2 separate regions of the Homo sapiens genome follow, and region 2 is linked to region 1. The links come from fine-mapping of genetic effects on gene expression. Tissue or cell type: whole blood. Region 1 holds a variant in brackets; the other region holds the start of a gene. All regions are shown on one strand. Distances are between the middles of the regions.

Region 1 (8,106 bases):
TGGTAATAATTTTTTTAGTTAGCTGGAAGCTAGAAAGGGCAGAAAGAGGTGAAGAGGAAGCTGTGGCCATGGAGGTTAATGTGGTCTGGGCTTGGGGTAGGTGTGGTGAGTGGAGGTTGACAACAGGTACAGCTTGTACTGCAAGGGCTGGGTAGCACAGGAGCTAAGGGAGGTGGGAGGGCCCGCAGAGCCCAGGTCCTATGCTGGGTGTTCTCTGACGAGCTCTGGAATGAAGTAGGCATGGGCAGTTGTTAAGGCTTTAAATCCCTCGATGTTAGGCCTTGAGGGACTGTGATTTCTCCCCACATCACTTCCCCTTAACCAAGTAGTAAACTACATTTGGCCAAAATTGTGCCTTTAGGACAATAGCCAGAGCAAGACGCAGAGCAAATCTATGACAGCCACGCTAACACTGCACATAGGACCAGACACAGAGAAAAAGCCTTCTCAGTGTGCACAGTGTCTGCATCTAAGCAAAATAAGTCTATCAGAATCTCCTTGAAACTGCTGCCAGGGAAATCTGAAAGCTTCTAGTAAGCAAAGCACAATGAAATGGAAATGAGTTATAGAGTACCCATTACCTCTAGTTTAATGTGCAATTGATAAGCTCTTTTACTTACTGTACCACCTGTTTTATTTTAATGAAAGGAAAAATTAGCTATTAGAGCTTTCGTGGACTCATTTGCAACCATGGTCTCCCAACTGTATTTCTTTGAGATGGCTTTAAGTTCCTGAGTCCCCAGTTCTCTGACTGAGGTAGTGGTGGTGGGCTGTGTTGGGGAGGCAGGCCTTTGATTGGGGAATGTGGTCAGTGACCTTCAAGATGGCCTGTGATGGTCCCCACCTCCTGGTGTTCACCCTTGGTGTAGTCCCCTCCCACACTGTGGCAGAGTTGATCTATGTGACCAATAGGACACAGCAGAACCCAGTGGAGTTTATTTTTAAGATTAGTTCTCATGTTCTCCCTCTCTCTCTCTCTCCCCTCATCTATCAGATCACTAATTCTCAAGCCAGCTCTCATGTCAAAAGGACATGCAGACAGTCTATGGAGAGGCCATGGGGACTCTAGCCAACAGCCAGTGAGGGCCTGAAGCCATGAACACTGTGAGCACACTTGGAAGTGGCTCCTCCAGCCCCAGTCAAGCCTTCAGGTGACTGCAGCCCTGACTTGACAGCAACCTTGTGAGAGCCCCTGAGTCAGCCCCACCTTACTAGTTTCCAGACCCTCAGATGCTGTGAGAGGTCACACACATTTGCTGTGCCAAGCTACTGTGTTTGGGGGTAATTTGTTACACAGCAATAGAAAACGTAATACAGAGAGTACAGTACCCATTACCTCTAGTTTAATGTGCAATTGATAAGCTCTTTACTTACTGTACCACCTGTTTTATTTTAATGAAAGGAAAAATTAGCTACTAGAGCTTTTGTGGATTCATTTTGTGGATTCAGAGGGAAGATAGTATCTTCTTGACTCAAGAGGAGGCCCTCATTACTTCTGCTGGGAGAACTGTCCATGTCCCTGATTAGAGTGGTTGGGGCATTCTCACTTCCTTTGCTAGACTGGGGGTACTGGTGTTTTGAATTAGATACAGAAAGGATTTTGCCTACATTCATTGCTGCATGCCTGTAACCCTTGTCATTTGGAGGCATGGATCAGGAAGCGCACACAGAATCTAGAGGATGATGCAGATCAGTTCTTCTTGTCCCTGTTCCATCTTGGTGGGGGCGGCAGGAAACATTTTTGTGCACTTGTAAGCTTCTGAAACTGGTATAAATGAGAAAAAAATAAGCTTTCTTTCTTATTATAAACACAAAATACCTGTGGTGTAAAAGATAAAAAGGCAAAACTATTCACCACCAATGATTCCACCATCCAGATACAAATACTGTTAACAACTGGAGCATATCATACTCCTATCTAGGTATATATATTTTACACAAATAGACAATATAATAAGTGCTATTGTATGACTTTTTTCATTACATATATTATGAGGCTGTGTTTATGTGACTAATATATCTTGTCATCTGCAATTATAATTTTAAATGGTTGCATGATACCCATTATACAGATGTGTCATAATTTCTTAAGCCAGTCACCTTTTGTTGGATTAAATTTGTTTTTATTTTTGCTATTATAAGGATTGCTAAAAAGAATATGCTTGTAGCAAATATTTGTACCTACCTTGACTTTCCTTCTTATGATAAATTATTAAAATAGAATGGTTGGACTAAAGCATGTATACATTCTATTTTATTTATTTTATTTTATTTTATTTTTTGAGACGGAGTCTCTCTCTGTTGCCCAGGTTATAGTGCAGTCATGTGCTCTCAGCTCCGCTCAGCAACCTCTGCCTCCCAGATTCAAGCGATTCTCCTGCCTCAGCCTCCTGAGTAGCTGGGATTACCGGCGCCCACCATCATGCCTGGCTAATTTTATAATTTTAGTAGAGATGGGGTTTCGCCATGTTGGCCAGGCTGACCTCTAACTCTTGACCTCAGGTGATCCACCTGCCTCGATCTCCCAAAGTGCTGGGATTACAGGCGTGAGCCACCGTGCCCGGCCTAAAGCATATATACATTTTAAATGCATTCCCATATATTACCAAATTGCTTTCCAGAAAGTTTGTACCAGTCTATACTCATTGAAATTTATTAGTGTCTATTTCCTTGTACCCTTGCCAGCACTGAGTAATAATTTTAAAAAAATCTTTCTGGCCTTCTATTTATATGGGAAACATAGGGACTTTTCAAGAAGTCTAGCTTATATTCAAAATTTGGCAGCAGCTGGCCAGGCGCCATGGCTCACATCTGTAATCCCAGCACTTTGGGAGGCTGAGGCTGGAGGATCACTTGAGCCCAGAAGTTTGAGTCTAGCCCGGTCAACATAGTGGGTCCTTGTCTCTACAAAAAATACAAAAATTAGCTGGGTGTGTTGCTGTGCACCTGTAGTCCTAACTACTCAGGAGGTTGAATTGGGAGGATCCCTTGAGCCTGGGAGGTTGAGGCTGGAGTGAGCTATGATTGTACAACTGTATTCCAGCCTGAGCAACAGAGCAAGACCCTGTCAGAAAGAAAAGGTAAGAAGAGAAGAGAAAAGGTAGGAAGAAAGGAGAGGAGACGAGAGGAGAGGAGAGGAGGAAAGGAAGGAAGAAATTGGCAGCAGCTTTGAGGGTGAGCAAGCTCTACTATAATCCAATGCCCAGTCAAGGGTGAGAGAAATGAAGAAATGAATTGACTGTTTCTCCCAGATTATGCTTAGAAGATGACAGGAAGAATGTTGAAAATAATATGTATGTGTTCAGGATGTAAGAAAGATCAAACATAAAATATTCAAATCTCTTGGCCCTGTAATTATACTTCTGACAGTTTAGCTTAAATAAAAATTCCAGTGAAAGGGAAAAGGGTATATACACCAAAAAAGTTTATTAACAGTACTTATTTTTTTTTCTAAGACCTAGGTGAAAACAAAACATTACTTATATTAGGGAAACACTACAAACACTTAACAGAAGAGAAATAGTTTAAGAAACTGGGGTATATCAACTTGAAGGAATATTATACAGTTGTTAAATTCGTAAAGGTTATATAGAAACATGCAAATATGTTTATGATGTAATTAGTCATATAAAGGTTATATAGAAACATATATGTTTATGATATAATGTGAGGTATAAAAAGAAATACATACAATTTTTAGCATTTAAAAATATGTACTAGTTAAATCCACATCAACAAGACTGGAAGGAAATATAAAACTACTAATCGTTGTGAAAGAGAGTGGCATCCTATCTTTGAATTTTTTTTTTTCCTGCATTGATTGCTTTTATTTAGGAAAGACCTGATGTCATATGGAAGCCAAGAAGAAACTCTTGTCCAATTTGTAGGGAAAGCAGAGAGACAGAGAGACAGAGAGAGCTTCAGCTTGGTTTCAAAACAAGGATGGAAATACAGAACAACTTAAGTTACCAGCACACTTCATAACAATTAAAAATCATCTCGCTTCTTCCTTCTGCCAGCATAATTTTGGGCTCACAGGTGGATTGACCTGACCTCCAAGAAATGTGTGACAAGGACTCGCCCCTTACCTCCTCAGTTACAGCACGTTTGGTGTTTATGTGAAGCTGGTGGCTTTCAGTATCATGGTGAAAATTTTCTTTTAGGTCATAATTGCTTAACTACAATGAAAAGTATTGATTTTGGAAAAGGCTCATCTTCCCAAAGAGGTTCACTTCAGGAGGTGAATTAATGTGCTCCAGGGACAGTCATGGAAAATGCTTGGCCACACTGGCCGTGTTCTGTAGCCAGGCATTGCTGAACAGTGCAGAGAAAGGCGCTGGAGGCAGACAGAGCTGGGCTGGAAGCCAGGCTCCACTTCATACCAGAAGTATGAGCCCGGGCAAGTTATTGAACTTCTACAGCTTAGTTTACGTAGCTGTGAAAATGGATGAATAATGCCTGCTTGTGCTGTTGTTAGGGAGGGGACGCCTGCTTGGAGGCGAGTATGCAGTAGGTGCTCAGTGAGTGGTGATGAGATAAAAAGCAATGCTGCTCATTTTCTATATTTCTCTTTTCATACTTATTGAGATTACAA[T/C]GGAGAGAAGGGACACCAGCTTAAAAGAAAACATTTGCAAATCTGTTTCTGATAAATGGAAATGAGAGCAACTGTAAACCACATGAGTCTGTCCAGGACAGAAGAGAGTGAGTGAAGGAAGGCTTTCTCAGCTGGGTGGTTATGTGAGCAGCGCCTCTACTGCCTCTCTGTTAAGTAATTTATCTGGACATCTTGATTGATAATGATGTGGCACTAAAAAACGAAAAGGCATCACAAAACTGCAAACCCTCTGCTTGCACTGTGGGAATAAAATTGGTCACGAAAAGGTGATGGCCACAAAAATCTGGTGGCGGGGTGGGGGGCGGGGGGTGCGGGGAATAGAAAATCTTACATAATATCTATTCCTGTGTTATTTTTTTAAAATCAGTTTATACAGTCTAATTTTTAAAAACAAAAGCTAGATTTTAGCTCTTCTCAATCCAGTGATTTGAAATCAGCCTGAAGAGAGCAAGGTGCATTGAATTTGCTATGACATCAACCGAATTTGTCAATTTCATTTGGATTTCCAGAATGTCCAGTGCTAGGAGACTCATAAGTTGGAGAGAAACGGCCTGATTTATAGAAACTGAGCGAGACTCCGGACCACCTGATGCAGAGAAACCTGTGACCTGAAAAAGTCTATTTGTGTTTCCTCTAGGAATCTCGGCCAAGAAGACAGGGACAAGCTCCCAACTCTGACTACCCCTTTTACAGGGAAAAAAAAAAAATCCCGTGCCTTCTTTGCAGCAAGTGACAAATCCTTGTCATATCGAGATGGCTTTTCCTCCTCCTCTTCAAACATCTTTTAGCAGCAACAGCAGCTCAAGTAACTGGAATTATTTCAGAGTTAAAATGCAGGCTTTGTAGACCCTCTTAGACAGACAGATTCAATTTCAAAGGAAACTTCTTTGGCTGGGTACTCAGTGAGTGTTACACAGGGATTTGGGGAGTTAATATTCACTGTTTCTGTTGTTGGAGAAAAGGAAAGCAGAGTTGCTCTTTCTCATTACTCTCCCCAACGCACATCTGTTTCCTCTCGTATCTTGGAATTAGGAAGATGGAGGAGACTTAAGTGGTGACCCACCTAGCCTCCTGATGCATGCTGGGCTCACTTTAAAACTCCCAAAACAGATGGCAGTTGATCACGGTTTTAAAGATCCCAGCATAGACTTTCTGCAGCCTCCCTTGTTAGCCACTATCAGCGCTTAACATTCTGTCATCTGAATAACTCCTTAAAAATGATAGCAATGGTAGTAGAAATTTAAAAGGAACCTCCCAAAAAACATGCAAAAGCTTACCACCCCAGTAAATCACCCGCAACAATGTCGCAACAGTTTAAATTTACTGCAGAGAGAGCTGAAGTTTAGGAGACACAGCTTTATAATATTTTTGAGAGATAGTTGAGTGCAAATGAGTCCTGTTCCTCTTGCATCAGGGCCTGCTCCACTGAGTCATCCTGCCTTCAGAAGCTTCCAGCTAAGTGGCAGGCCCCGGCCATAGGCTCCCTGTGTCCCCAGCCTCCAGAGAACACACAATGTTCTCATCGCCCTTAGCTCCATTCCAGAAGGGGCCTGCAGTTCTGCAGCTTATCAGGGGTCTACTGGGAAGTGAGATGTCACTGTCCCTTTCTGGCCCTGCATTGTCTGTGAGTGGCTCTCCTGGATTAAGAGTTGGCAAAGTATGGCCAGTGGCCAGGACTGGCCTGCTGCCTGTTTTTGTTTAACCCGTGAGCTAAGAATAGTTTTTACCTATTTTAAGTAGTTGAAAAAAAAATCAAGAGAAGAATACTATTTCGTGATATGTGAAAAATCACATGAAATTCAAATGTAAGTGTCCATAAATAAAGTCTTACTGGAAGACAGCCTTGCTCATTTATTTCTGTCTCATTCGCTACTGTCTGCGGCTGCCTTCACGCTACAATGGCAGTACTGAGTAGTTGTGACGGGCACTGTATGACAGCAAATCCTAAAGTATTTGCCATCTGGCCCTTCACAGAAAAAGTTTGCTGACCCTGGCTTTCGAGCCTCTCATCACTTTGGGATTCATCTCTTTACTTTCCCCAGAGTGAGGGAGGCAGTAACGTTCCTCGTGAGTGCTTAGTCCTTGCTCCCAAGGCAATAAACCCCCCAAAACCCCTCTCTTTCTGCAGTCTTCTTGTTGGCTTGATAGTGGTAGGGCTGGTTCAGCCAAGGTCACAGTTGGAGGGCAGGAAGGGGGTACAGCGAAGGACGACGGGGGTGTCTTCTCTAGTCCTGTTTGCAGCAATCTTTAGAATGCAAAATAATTAAGAAGAAACTGCTGTTTTTTGGCTGTGGGATGCAATTCGAATTCTGGAAAATTAGAATCAACAGAACGTGGGATGTGGGAGTCCAGGACAACTCCCCTGTTTTGGCTGTGTTTGGTGCCATGTGTGGAGGTGGGAGAGATGGGAGAAAGAAGAGGTTTGGGCAGGGGGAGGGAAGAATCAAGATTCTGCTTTGAATGGACGAAGGTTGTGGTTTGTTGAGAGGACAACTAGATAACTGGCCACTTGAAGATGGGATGGAAGTCTGAATCTGCAAGGAGTCACAGATGAATGGTATGGAAAGCTGTGGTAGTGGATGAGATCATACGAACGGTGGGTGCAGATGGAAACGAGAAGCCATCTAAGGACTCGTAATGGGCTCCTCAACACTTGGAAGTTGGGTAGAGGAAGAAGACCGCATGAGGGCAGGATCCTGAATGTTCCACTCACTGCTATATCCCTAGCACTGGTTACAGTGCTTGGCACACACTGCATGCTCAATAAATTATTTGTTGCCCATATAAGTGAACGTGAATTCCAATGGACTAGCATCTTCCACTCTCAACATAAACAAAAACAACAGCAACATTGCAATTCCCTATCTTCTCTTCCCTGATCTCTTTCTCATTCTGTCTCTCCTTCCCTTTTCCTCTGCCTTCCTGTTGCCTTCTCTGATATGAGTTAAATTTATCAGGGGTGTCCAGGTACCCGGCTATTCTTGAGCATTCCTTATCTGGCTACAACTCTGGGTGACACTGGTTACTAGTTTAGTGAACGAGCCAACATATATTCTTCTTTTTGTCTACATAGTTTTTTTTAATGTTAAACTTGTTCCTATTGCACCTCACTCTTTATGAACTGTCAGTTAATGCTATTTTGGCTCTATTCCTACCTTAGACGGATGCTTGACAACTTGGTGTCATCTGACCTTAATTAGGACATTCTTGGTTAAGACATTGTTGGTGTAAAGAGAGAGATGTTCAGTATGGGGTCCTCTCTGACATGAGTAAGGTCACAGAGGATGTCCCTAGGTGGAGGCTGAGTCATCGATAGGCTGCCTTTTGGGTGATATTATTCAGCTCTTTGTGCCTGCACTTAAGACAGAAGAGAGTCTCTCTTATTTCCTTCTATCTAATTGATGAAAAGTCATTTGTGATGGAATCTAAGGTCAGATTCCAGCACAAAGAGATTACATCTCTTGCTCATTCTTTATCTACATGGCCTATCT
Region 2 (8,106 bases), 31 kb before region 1:
AAGAAAGTATTAGAACGTTAATTTATATTCATTTAAAAAAATCTCATCTTTTAGGTTTCTATTTATAATTTTTAAATGTTTAATAGAGTATATATAAAATTTAGAAATAAATATAACTATTGAGGGTGCATGTTCAAAATTGTTGCGAAGGCTAGATTATAAAAATAGTTGGGAGGTCACCATTCTTGGCTGGGTAAGGTGACCCTGTTCTTTTCTTCCCCCAGAATGACATGCTGCTTTGTCATTATTTATTGTCTTCCTTATGGACAACATGAGGACAGCGACTGTGATTCAGTCAGGATGAATCTGCAGACAGCAGGATCCACTCTAGTTATAGTAGAAATGGATTTATTAGAGGTGGATGACTTTCAGCAGAGGTCCCTAAACTTAAGGGCATAGCAGAATCACCTAGAAGGCTTGCTAAAGTCAAGCCTACCAGGTCCCGCCCCCAGAGTTTCTGATTCAGCAGGTCTGGGGTGGGGCCCAAGAATTTGCATTTCTAACAAGTTCCCAGGTGCTGCTGGTCCAGAGCCCACCCTTGGAGAACCACTGGGCTATAGAATGATGTCAAGGGCTGGAGAGGGAGGCTACAGAGTGGGTCTAGGTCCAGGTACAGTCTCAGAACCACACTGCAAAACTGGCTTAGTCAGGTAGCTGCTGTATCTGCTGCTTCCACTGTGAACTCAAAAACCACATTGCCTGTGCTGCAGGCCGGAAAGCTGCTGAACCAGGAAGCTGTGCTGATGCTGCTGACTGCCCCTGAGGTTAGAGATTGACTAGACATAGTGCCACTGTCATCCCTGCTGGAGAAGGTCCGAAGCACCTCCACCTCTGTGCTTCCAGAGGGGCACTGTGGTGGCCACTTAAAATGCTCAGGCTATACCATGCACTAGAGCATCTACCTGGGTAAGCTGCTATTATTATTATAATCGACCTGGAAGATTACTCTGGGGAAACCCTAGTGCAAGGGACTTTGGAGGAAGAGGTCTTTGGTGTTTCAGGCTTTGGTGCACAGGAAATCTTGCTAGGAGGTTGGAGTGGTTTTGTGTGAGGTGAGAGCAATGTCTGCTGCAGACTATTTTTCATGTTGGCTCCTGGTATGGTGCCTGAGCTCTAGGACTTGGCACATAGAAGGCCCTCTTCCTTTTCCTTCCTCAACCTGCTAGTCTCAGCCACTCCCCTGAGCACATACAGTATGCTGAAGTGTTTCAGTGTTTCAAGTGGGCTCTTGAGCATGCTAGGTATCCAGGGAGACCAGAATTCTTGCAGTGACAAGTCCGCTGGGGCTATTTCCATCTAGGAGTCAGTCTCACTTAGCTCACTGGGGATCTAGGTTACATGTGTTTTCCCAGAGTGACCTCCCCCTAACCCCCTTCCCTCCACATCCTTGTCTCCAGAGCCTGGAACCCTGGGATGCCACCTTGGTCTTGAGAATCTCAGGCTGAATCCATTTCTAGGAGGGAGACATGAGATTCTTCCACAAATGAGGTGGGGAGGGGTTGGAGGAAACTATTATTTCTAATACACCCTTCAGGCAACAGGTGCAAGCATAGAGAGTTCCAGCTTAAACTTTAGGATGGTATGACAGTGACAGGCATTTAGCAGAAAGTGCACTTCAGGGCTGGGCGCGGTGGCTCACGCCTGCAATCCCAGCACTTTGGGAGGCCGAGAAGGGTGGATCATGAGGTCAGGAGATTGAGACCATCCTGGCTAACACAGTGAAACCCCGTCTCTACTACAAATACAAAAATTAGCCAGGCATGGTGGCACACGCATGTAGTCCCAGCTACTCAGGAGGCTGAGGCAGGAGAATCGCTTGAACCTGGGAGGTGGAGGTTGCAGTGAGCCAAGATCATGCCACTGCACTCCAGCCTGGGCAACAGAGTGAGACTCCGTCTCAAAAAAAAAAAACAAAAAGTGCACTTCGGATTCTGAAGACTGGCCTTTATCCCACAGGCAAGGGATATGCTGTATGACACTCTCCTGATGCTGGGCATGGCTGTGAGCCAAAGCACCCAGGCAGCCCTGCCATCAGAAGGGTAAACCACGGACACCTGATGCCTTCCTGAAGGAAGAGCACTACGCCTGCCAAACCATCAAGCGTTGATGCTCCAGCGCCTTCTACCCGTGGTTCTCCAGCCTCAGCAGAAGAGAGAGAAATTGATGACCCTGTCGTTGTAGCATCCCCATCACCCAGCAATTAATTTTAGTTCAATGCTTCAAACGCTCTTCAGGCGCAGTGTGCGTTCAGCTGTGTCAGCTAATGGTGAGTACCCGGACAACCATTCTGTTTCACATTCAGTACAGTATTCAATAAATCACATGAGATACTCAACACTGTATTATAACATAGATAGGCCTGTGTTACATTATGTTGCCCACTGTAAGCTAATGTAAGTGTTCTGAGCACGTTTAAGGGAGGCGAGGCTGAGCTCTGATATTCGATAGGTTAGGTGTATTCAAAGCATTTTAGACTTTCAATATTTTCAATTTACAATGGCTTTTATAGGGATGTCACTCCACCGTAGGTCGAGGAGAATATGTAGTCAAGTTGCCTGGTCATGAGCACATTTTAGGTCAAGGTGTGTTTTACGCAGCTTCTAGGGTTTGCTCCTTCCTTTTGAGTTTGAGCCTGGGGGTGTGGGTTGAGGATAAAGAGTAGGTGTGGGCCAGGAGTGGTGGCTCACATCTGTAATCCCAGCACTTTGGGAGGCCGAGGTGGGAGGATCTCCTGAGCCCAGGGGTTCGAGATCAGTCTGGGGAAGGGACGAGACCTTGTCTCTACAAAATTAAAATAAAAATAAATAAATTAGCCAGGCCTGGTGGTGCATGCCTGTAGTCCCAGCTACTCAGGAGACTGAAGCAGGAGGATCACTTGAGCCCAGGACTTTGAGGCTGCAGTGAGCTATGATCACGCCACTGCACTCCAGCATGAGCAATAGAGTGAGACCCTGTCTGTATTGAGAGAGAGAGAGAGAGAGAGAGAGAGAGAGAGAGAGAGAGAGAGAGACACACACAGAGAGACAGACAGAGAGAGAACAAAGAGCAGGTGTGATCGGAGCTCAGGAAATCCTCCCTCTGGTAAGTAGTCTCAGCCTTCTATTGAGGCTGCCACCACAGTGCCATCCACAGCTTTTGCAGACCATGACATACGCAAACTGTTGTAAAATTTTGGCAGTGCTCATAGTCTCAGAGCCAAGCTTTGAAACAGAGAGGCAGCAGGAGACAGTGGGAGGAGGGTGGGATTAGAGACAGAAGGTCTCCGGGTTTGAATCTTTTCTCTCTATTGGCTGGTTGTGTGACTCTTGTCTCAGCTTCTTGGGCTGTACAAAGAGAAAACTAACACCTGCCTTAGAGACTTGTGATGATTTAATGTAGAGTGTGTGACATGTTATTGGATATTAGCAATTGCTGATATTTATAATGAAGAGCACTGGAAGCTGTCACAGTTCTCATAGTTTATTTTGCATTTGCTCCTCAGCATCCTCTGCTCATCTCAGTGTCTGTGTGGTCTTAGTGGGATGCTGACTATATTAATACTTGTAAACTTTACTCATTTTCCATCTCAAATGGGACAAGGGATAAAAATTATTTTTTATATTGTATATTTATTTAGTAAGTGAGCACTTTCCATTTTAGGCACTGGAGACACAGAAATGAAAGAGACAACGTGCCCTCAAGGATCTCACAGTGTGTGGTGAGGTGGACACACACACACATATCTAAGCACATGACAGTGAGAGGCACGTGGTCACGAGGTTGTGACGTGGAGCTGAGAGCTCAGAGGAAGGGCTTTGGATCAAGTGTGGTCAGACCACACTCGGCCATGAAAGTCTTTGAAGGTGGGGAAGGGGTGAAGATGGTGAGGGGATTCCACGGCTGGGAGAGGTACACTCCCTACACGTTCTAACCAACTGGCCGTGGGGAGGAAGCTGGAGGTCAGGACACAGGTAGGGCCTGGGTTTTTGCCTCATGTGACTGGGTGGATGGTCACAATTCGGCCATGCTGTCTTTGAACTCAACACCACCAAAATCATAGGATATTCCTAGTAATGTTGATTTCCACTAGATTACTTTTGTTACCAGAGTTTTAAGGGCAGAAGTCTTTGTCCCTTTTTTTCTCTAACAGGAAGCCATTCTGGGCCATTTATTTGCCGTTAACTTACACAGCCCACTGGAGAGTGGAGGGGTGTGAATGTGGGAGCCTGGGTGAGGGCTGCACCGGACTGTCACCAGGACAGTCCTCAATGCTGCCTGACTTAGCCACATTGCCAAAAACATACACCCATAGGTTATGAAATATTCAATACTGTATTGTATGGGAGAAATACAAAGAGGAGAAAGAACTGGGTTGAAAAGGTGGTCTGGTCAGGTATCTCAACCCACTGGCTTATAGACCAGGAACCACTCTAGACAATGCATGTAAGGAACAGAAATGGGAAACAAAAACATTTAAATTGTATTTTTCTCTGATTGCAATAAACTTGGAGGAAAGCTATTTTCTTACTTTGAGCTTTTCTTCCAATTATGATGAATGCAGAGATTAATTACAAAGGACCCGGATAAACTAAAACTCATCTACAGCATTTTTTTTTTTTTTGAGATGGAATCTCGCTCTGTTGCCCCGGCTGGAGTGCAGTGGCGCGATCTCGGCTCACTGCAAGCTCCGCCTCCCGGGTTCACGCCATTCTCCTGCCTCAGCCTCCTGAGTAGCTGGGACAACAGGCACCTGCCACCACGCCCAGCTAATCTTTTTTGTATTTTTAGTAGAGACGGGGTTTCACCTTGTTAGCCAGGATGGTCTCCATCTCCTGACCTCGTGATCTGCCTGCCTTGACCTCCCAAAGTGCTGGGATTACAGGCGTGAGCCACCGCGCCCGGCCTCTACAGCATATTTTAAAAGGCAAAAAGGTATTTTAAAATTCATGTTGGAAGACGTGGGCTCTAGCTGGGGCTGAGACAGATGATTCAACTATATTTTTTATTTTACTGCGCACTGAGGGTTGAAGCTGAAGAGCATGCATGCTTACCATTGTGTGTGCACATGTGTGTATGTGTGTCTTACACCAAAGACTGAAATCTCAAAAAAGCCCCAGGGAGCAGGTGTAACTATTATGCTACAAATGAACAGGTGTATTGTGGATCGCTGTTATATAGTTCTTTTCTTCAAACATACCTTCCTGATATAACGTTTTCTTCCTGAAAGCAAACAGTTTCTACTATTGGATTCTTGAGTGTATCATTAAGCTTCTCCAAACACAAATAACATCTACTATGCTTTAAAAGTAATGGCCCACACAGCTACTTATTTGTGTGACTGTTTATCTGTTTATACCTTTGCCTGTTTTTATCTTCAAGCAAATGGGGGATCTCAGAAGTCTTAATGAAGTAACTATCCCTGAACACTGGGATCAATACTCAGCATCCAGCTGTCAAATCAACACCAAGGTATGTACCGGGGAAAGGAAGGTTTTAGGTGAACTCCTAGCTGCATGTCTGGTTAACCTGCAACCACACAAAGCAGCTGGGGTAAAGGTGTGTCCCGATGCCTTGTGGTGTACTTGGAACTCCACAGCCAAAAGATTAGACGTTGTTTGCTCACTGTGTTCAAAACAAGAGGTGTAAAGGAAGTTCAGCAACAACCGAAAGATGACTCGTAATTTGTAACTGACTGGCTATGCTTGGCGAGCCTGGTGTATTTATAATCTTTCAAAGTCAAGCGCAAAGGCTCCTGAGCCTCATGCGTCACCCAACTGCAGCATTCCTGTTGATCACGCTGGCTGTCACCATAAAGCCTGAGCAAAAGTAAACTTTTCTGTCCCAAGGGTTTCCTTGTACTGAAAGAGCCACTGCTTGCGGCTTTTTACAGGATCACAACCAATGTCTGTTTCATGCGGCAGGTCCCTGGGGACTGTAATTGCAGAAGTATAACCTGGCGGTTATGTCACATGGCCCAAGAAACTGCCAGGAGACCAACATGCTTCCTGCCAGACGACCTTTTGCAGCTGAAGGCACTAGTGCCCCATCTGCGGTCGCTGTCTCTGTATGAACAATTCTCTGATATTCCCTGGGCAAAAAGAGGTGCTTGTTGACAACACTGAGTCAAAACTTGGAACCCTGAGCCCTCAGTCTGCCACCATATCATTTTCCTGTTAATGGAGTGTTAATTAACAAGGGTTTTCGTTTTTATGAAACGAACTGTTTTTAAGTAGGAGGATTTCCTACCTTTGAATCAACTCAGAGCTCATTTCCTACTAAAATGATAGGTGATATCAATATAAGGATGTGGAAGATTTGCCCAGTTTAAGCGTTGGGAATGGAGGCCTAGCTGCATGGCTGAGGGGATTTGGGCCATGCATGGCCTCACTGGTTGAGGACATGGATGCTGGAGATGCTTAGGTCTGGGCTTCTTTGTCTCTTTAGCCTCAGTATTCTCATCTGTAAAATGGGGTGATGTGAGAAGTCGATGAACTAATGCACATGAATAATGACAGCTAATACTTGTGTGGCCCCAACTACATCCCAGGCACTGTTTTTCTGTTAACTCATTTATTCCTCAGAGCAATCCTATGAGGGAGGTACTATTGTGGTCAGTCCCATTTTACAGATGGAAAGCTGAGGCACAGAAAGGTTGGTAACTTGCTCAAGGTCACGCAACTACTAAGTGGCAGACCTGGGATTTGAACCTATGCCTGACTGTGGAGCCCATGTTCTTATGATGCCAAGTTGCACCTTTTGTAAGACAGTCAGTAGGTGGCATACACTTGGTAAGTACTCAGTAACTATCAGAACAGGGTATACAGCGGATCACCTGGAACAGAAGCCATGTTTCTCACCTCTGTTGGCTATGGTGCAAGGCATGGGTGACCTTTAAGGGCCTAATAGTGCTGTCTACTTATCAAAGGCTCAGCTTCTTAGCTGTGGCCACAGGAGACTGGGGCAACCAGAAGTCTGGTAGGGTGTCAAGCCAATAGTCATCCTGGGGATGATGAGATGCCACCAGATTGCTGCTGACTTGGGCCAAGTTGGTGGCAGGCACTTCAGGCCATGGGGGGAACCAGGCATGAGAGCAGGGTGTGGCAGGGAGGAGACACTTGGTCTGTGTGTGTGTGTTTAGGGAGGTAGATGGGAGCCTCAGGTGATTTCGGGTCTTGGGAAAGATAGCTTGGGATGGAGAGTTGGGTCTCAACCCTTGTCTCTCACTCAGGTCTATACCTAACTGGAGACACTGAGAAGAAGAATCAGGGATGAATGCAAGAAGGTGATGTGAGCCATCCCATCCCCACACCTGTGTGTTAAGGAACATGGGGATGTTTTAATAGTAAAGAAATGCCCATAGGATGTTTGGGGGTGGTGATGACTTCCGGTATTTCCTCTCAAAAGGCTAAAAATACTGACAGTCTTGTGCTGAAACTGGCTTTAGATTTTCACCCTGTTTGTCATTCTGCTCTAAGACTGGCTGGGCACTATTCTAGGGGATGGTGATTCAAAGACAGTAGAAAGCACATCCCTTTCCTCAAGATACAACACATAAACATATAATAGAAATCAATAGGGTCATCCAGAAGTAAGCACTGGGGTCATGGGAGCTTTGGGAGGGAAGAGGCAGGGTCAGAGATGGTGGGGGATAACAGCTGAAGGTCAGCCTTTGAGGCAATGGGAGGTGGAAGCATGATCAGGTTTAGGAGAGGAAGGCAAGGGATGAACAGCTGCATCTTGATAGGGCTTAAAATGTCAGTCTAGGCGAGGTAGAAGATAAAGGTGGGGAGGTAGGGCCAGGTGTAATATATATTTTATTAATTTTTTTTTACTTTTTTTTTTTTTTTGAGACGGAGTCTCACTCTGTCACCCAGGCTGGAGTATACTGGTGCCATCTCGCTCACTGTAACCTCCCCTACCTGGGCTCAAGCAATTCTCCGGCCTCAGCATCATCAGTAGCTGGGATTACAGGCGCCCGACACAATGCCTGGCTAATTTTTTGTATTTTTAGTAGATACGGGGTTTTGTCATGTTGGCCAGGCTCGTCTTGAACTCCTGATCTCAGGTGATCCACCTGCCTTGGCCACCCAAAGTGCTGGGATTACAGGCGTGAGCCACCGCACCTGA

What was found. PIP is the estimated chance that this variant, and not a neighbour inherited with it, causes the effect.
Region 2: LINC00426 starts here. The variant in region 1 is fine-mapped to the expression of LINC00426 in whole blood (TOPMed, PIP above 0.99).

Annotation. Positions count from the first base shown.
Region 1 is chr13:30,338,615-30,346,720 of GRCh38, reverse strand. It overlaps LINC00426 (long intergenic non-protein coding RNA 426), which reads left to right. Exons shown (of 5, transcript NR_024464.2): 5 at 5,253-6,455. LOC124903145 (a long non-coding RNA gene) reads right to left here. Exons shown (of 2, transcript XR_007063742.1): 2 at 1-1,765. Among named protein-coding and RNA genes, the nearest start is that of LINC00427, 23 kb to the right of the region's middle. RefSeq lists an enhancer at 7,647-8,106. The variant T/C (reference allele first, on the strand shown) is at 4,595.
Region 2 is chr13:30,369,627-30,377,732 of GRCh38, reverse strand. LINC00426 (long intergenic non-protein coding RNA 426) reads left to right here and starts at 3,819. Exons shown (of 5, transcript NR_024464.2): 1 at 3,819-3,950; 2 at 5,359-5,448. RefSeq lists enhancers at 521-580, 711-830.